2 separate regions of the Homo sapiens genome follow, and region 2 is linked to region 1. Evidence: fine-mapped expression QTL. Tissue or cell type: whole blood. Region 1 holds a variant in brackets; the other region holds the start of a gene. All regions are shown on one strand. Distances are from middle to middle.

Region 1 (2,764 bases):
CGTGCGGAGTTTGAATCCTAGCGCCCCCATCTCCAGGTCCAGACCCCAGACGCGCCGCTCCCCTGCGGGGTTTGGGCCCACAGCCTTCGGGCAGGGGGCGCTGTGGCGTAGACGTGCAGGTGGGCCCGGCGGGTGTGCAAGAAGTAGCACTGTGGGTTGGAACCTGAAGGTGCCTGCCTGGTTTCAGGCTTCTGAACTCCCAACGAAAGGCTCGGTCCGTCATTATTTCTTTAGTGGCCTTGGTCCCACTGCCAGGGAGGTTTTTCAGGTCCGAACGTGCAAGGCTGCCCGTTGTGTCACTGCGGAACTGATGGAATCCCCTTATTAGGACTGAGGTGACCTAAAAACCGGCTGTTCCGGGGTGCTGACGGGTGCCGGATCGGGTAGGGCGGGGCGCTAAACACCTGTGCACAGATGAATGCTCTGCGTTCTCACGACCTCTGCCCTAGCACACGAGCTTCGAGTTATAGGAGAAAGCTATCCTTCCTGGGGTGTATTCATCCAAGACTTTCCAGATCTGTATACCCAATACCCGTATTTGTTTATTAGAAGCTGGCATCTTTCTTAAGCCTGGCACATCCAAACATATAAAAAGTAACACTAGGGAATGATGTAATCTGCAGGCAACCTGCTGATGAAATGAGACATCTGACTTAAGTCTTGAATGAATTTTTTTTGTAAAAACAGAAGGGAGAATGCATTGACAAGTTTCTCCTGGGCGCGAACTGCGGATTGATTGGAAAGCTTCCCTACCTCGAGGAAGCTAGACGGTTCGTGGGAAAGGAGTCTGTCCAAGGTTGCCCCAGCACCGGTGTCACCCATCAGGGCCCTTATTGCGGTTTTCTCTGGCTATCACCAAGGGGAGCTACTTTGCAGAGTTTGTAAATCGTGCATCAGTTGCATCCCTATGTGTATCTTGTTCTTGCAGTTTAACCAGTCAGTGAGCAATGAACTGAATATTGGAGTAGGGACTTCCTTCTGTCTCTGTACTGATGGGCAGCTTCATGTCAGGCAAATCCTGCATCCTGAGGCTTCCAAGAAGGTAAGAGTGCTGGCTTCTGGGAAAAAAATGGTTGGAGCTTTGGGGTGACTGGAGGTTTTTAAAAATTTTTGGTTTATTCAAGTTTCTCTGTTCTTAAAAAGATGCATATAGGGAGTTATTTAATGAGTACAGAATTTCAGTTTGGGAAGATGAAAAAGCTCTGGAAATGGATGGTGTTTATGGTTGCAAAATATGTTAATGTACTTAATGTTTTACTGAACCATACTCTTAAAAATTATTAAAATGGTAAATTTGGTGTTATGTATATACAAAGATACTCTTTGGTGACTTAAAATAGTCTCTTTGTTTACGTCCAATTTTCAAGATGCATGACACTTCCCTTTTCCGAAGCTAATA[CAG/C]AGTGTGAATTTTTGACATTTAAAATAACTACAAAGAGAGGAAAGAACTATTCTTTAGTATGTCATAATATCCTCATTTGTGTTGGAAATGCTATATCCTAGAAAGGAAGGAAAAAAGAATTAAACATTTAAAGTTGTATTTCTAATCATTTCATTAAAAAGGCTACTTAAATAAGATAACCTTATATCTAGTGAAACCACAATCGTAGCACTCTTCACTTTGTCTGATTTTAAGTCAATGTTCAAAACATTCTTGCATCAAAACAAAAGGGTCAGCCTCATCTTTTACCTTTGCTCATTTTTCTGACAGAGAGAGGATTACAGAGTGAGAGAAATACAGTCTTACTATAGGTAAAATGTGATTTCTCTCCCTGGGATAAATACTGAGGGGCTGTGGGAAAAGGAACAGCAGAGACAACCCACCCAGTGTAGCCAATCATTGTTAATACACTGTCTCTTAACAACTTAAATTAGTTTGAGCTGTAACTTTTTATTGTGGTAGGCAGGCACCGAGCTTGAAAAGATGGAAGTAGAATATATTTAGGTACCTGTATAAGGCAAGGCTTGCAATGAAAGATGTAGACTGACAAATGACGACCCAGGCAAGTAAGTGCAGATTTTATTTCGTTTAATATATTATGACAATTCAAAAAGTTTGAAGGAGTAACTCAAGTTGTTATGTCTTCAGAAAATCATTCCTTTTATACGAGTCTTAGTAATTATTTGACAAAAGGGGAAGAATTTTTTTAAAAAATTAAATGCTAGACTAGTCGCTACATCCTTACCAGAAATAGTAATATGTAAGGATTACTTTTTTACTCCCAAACTCACATGACGGAAGGACAAGACTTAATCTTTTCCCTGTTGGGCCAGAGGAAAATAGCTGTTTTCATTATTTAGGTGGAGTGCTTTGGGTGTAGGAAAACATCTGGAGAAAAATTAAGACTTTTTCCTCAGCCACAGCTATTAGAATTTTGATTAAATACAGAAACTAAAACAATTAATGTTATAGTGAAAGTAATTCTGTATATTCGTTAAAGAAAAGGGAAAATGGCAAAACATGAAATAATCCTGCCACTCAATATATTAAAATGTTTTTCTCTAACATGAATGTATTTGGATATATTCTTCTAGATTTCTGTAGACAAGCATTATTTACAAAGAGCATTCATACGGCGTAAGCCTTTTAGCCTACATTATTTAATAGAACATCAACATTGTTATAACCACTAAATAAAATACTCAGTATTTTAAATGGACACAACAATTTAAACTGATTATTGTTGAACATGTGAGTTATTGTCCTTACAAATAGCTTTTAAATGAGCATTTTTGTAGGTAATAGGGAGGTTTCATGGTTCTT
Region 2 (2,632 bases), 180 kb after region 1:
TATAATGTTGTTATTGTATTAGATGGTAGTGGAATAATGAACTCTTCCTTAATTAAAACTTATTTTTACATATGTAATACAAATGTCAAAATGTCAAGTTAATCTGTACTGATTTCCTTTTTTTTCTTTCTTTTTTTTTTTCTCGTTGTGAGACAGGGTCTCACTCTGTTGCCCAGGCTGGAGTGTAGCGGCACAATCACAGCTCACTGCAACCTCAATCTCTTAGGCTTAGGTGATCCTCCCGCCTCAGCTTCCTGAGTAGCTGGGACCACAGGTGTGTGTCACCATACCCGGCTACTTAAAAAAAATTTTTTTTTGAGACAGAGTTTCGCTCTGTTGCCCAGGCTGGAGTGCAATGGAGCGATCTCGGTTCACTGCAACCTCCGCCTCGCGGGTTCAAGCGATTCTCCTGCCACAGCCTCCTGAGCAGCTGGGATTACAGGCGTCCGCCACCAAGCCCGGCTAATTTTTGTATTTTTAGTAGAGACGGGGTTTCATCATATTGGTCAGGCTGGCCTTGTATTCACGATCTATGAATGCATCTTTTTTCAGTTTTAATCGTTAATGAAAAATACAAGAACATCACAGAACGGAGGTAAATGTATAGGGTTAACAGCGCCTCTAGCGGGGATATCGAAAGGATCAACTAGGCTCTAAGTATCGGGAGCTAGCAGCAAGGGCTGCTCACCGTATGCTGCCATCCGTCCAGGAAGCGAGTGGGAAGCTGGTGTTCTCGGCAGGACGGCGGGAGCATCTGAGGAGAGGACCCAGGTGCGAGGAAATCTCAGAAATGGGAACGGGGAAATTGAAAGCACAGGAGATAAACTTTGCTTGGGTCACAACTAGAACCCTTCGCTTCGCCTTTACGAAAATATTGAGGCCCGTTGCAACCCTAGATGAGGTTGTCTCATTTTCTCGCTGGAGAACTGTCAGGGAACACGGAAAACCCACCCGCGACCCGGCTTCATGCGGCGCCGTCTCCTATGGCAACCGGGAGGAGGCGTGGTTCGAAGGTTAGTCACGCCCCTTTCCTTCCAACCCGAACAACGATTGGTCCGAAGGCGCGGCGGTGGCGCGGGGAGGCGGATCCAGGACCGCAGCTCCGGCTGGCCCGCGCCGCCATTTTGGATTGTGTGAGTTTCCGGGACGTTCGGAGGGTGGCCTCTCTCCCACCGGGTTCCGCATACCCCAGGCACCGGCCCGCATCCAAGTGTCAGGTTGGAGCCGGGAAGCGGCCCTGGTGGTAGCGGCGGCGGGGGCAGGATGAGCGCGGAGGCGGCGGACCGGGAGGCGGCCACCTCCAGCCGGCCCTGCACCCCGCCGCAGACCTGCTGGTTTGAGTTTCTGCTGGAGGAGTCACTGTTGGAGAAACATCTGCGCAAGCCCTGCCCGGGTGAGCGCGGCGCCTGCACCTGGGGAGCGGGACCCGGCCACCGGCGCTGTCCGCCCAGCTTCCCTCCGCTCCCCGCCTTCTCGGTCACCGAAGCTGCGGCCTGGGAGGCGCGCACAGGAGCCCAGCTCCGGCCGGGCTCCTCGCTTCCCTTAAACATGCCCGGGTGGAGGGTCAAAGAAAAGCTCGAAACAAAGGCTCTCCTACCCCCGGAGGGGAGGGCTTGGTGCTGTCATCCTAAACCCTTTGGTCCTTTTTACGATTTACCTTTTTACTGTTGGGGTTTTAGAGGCTGCGAGGCGGGTCTTGTGGTTGCTTGGGTCGGGGAGGCTGACCAGACGCCTCCTTCAACCCCAAGCTGAATAAATTCAGGGAGCTGGGGAGAAACCAGCTGTTGGGTGTTGATCGTGACGCTAGTTATTATCTTAGGTTTTATTTAAACATTTTTTTCTTCAGTGAGGGAATTTTATTGACTCTTATTCCAAAGTTGGGCTGTAAGTTAAAAGAAAATCTTTGAAAGTAGGAACTGCTGCACATTTGCAAGATGGCTTTGTATAGTGATGATAATGATTAATAGCCCAGTTAAATGGGTGTGATTGATGGGGGAGGAGGAAAACTCCAGGCATTCTCAAAAAAGGTATTGGCACAAAAAGGTAAGTTCCTCGGATAGCATTTCTCTAAATTCAAATCTAGATATGGCTTGTTCAGTCTCAGACTGGCCTTCACTGATAGAGACCACTGTGTAAGAAGTTAGTGTACTTAGGCAGTTTTGGCACCTGTATAATGCCCTTAATTCATTCCTTTTGAAAGATAATTTGTTGAGTGCTTTCCGGGTGCCATGCACTGTGCTTAATTGCTCACATCCGTTACCTCCTTTAATTTAATCTTCAAAATGATCCTCTATTTTGCATTGGAAGAAGCAGGTACGGAGAGGTCACTTGATGGAGGTCCCCCTAATTAAGTGTCAAAATAATAGTTCTAATATTTATATCTCATTCTTCTAATTGGCAGTGGTTATTTGCAGAACCAGAAATCTATGACTGTTATGTTCTTCCCCGTAAGGTGCTTTTTTTTGCTTTCTTCCACTCTAATCTGTTACCCTTCCTCCTTACCACTCTTCCGCATCTCCTTTAACCCCCAGGCACACTTCTTACATACGTATTCCTTAGTCATTTTAACAGCGCAGCTGTTTGGATTCCTTTTGTGGCAAAAAAAAAACCCAAACTCCCCCCCCCCCCACCC

Evidence for each region. PIP is the estimated chance that this variant, and not a neighbour inherited with it, causes the effect.
Region 2: it holds the start of INTS8, and the variant in region 1 is fine-mapped to the expression of INTS8 in whole blood (INTERVAL, PIP above 0.99).

Annotation. Positions count from the first base shown.
Region 1 is chr8:94,642,375-94,645,138 of GRCh38, forward strand. It overlaps ESRP1 (epithelial splicing regulatory protein 1), which reads left to right. Exons shown (of 16, transcript NM_017697.4): 3 at 929-1,042. Among named protein-coding and RNA genes, the nearest start is that of ESRP1, 2.6 kb to the left of the region's middle. RefSeq lists an enhancer at 138-227. The variant CAG/C (reference allele first, on the strand shown) is at 1,400.
Region 2 is chr8:94,822,169-94,824,800 of GRCh38, forward strand. INTS8 (integrator complex subunit 8) reads left to right here and starts at 1,119. Exons shown (of 27, transcript NM_017864.4): 1 at 1,119-1,393. The coding sequence starts at 1,264. RefSeq lists a silencer at 1,156-1,545 and an enhancer at 1,706-1,765.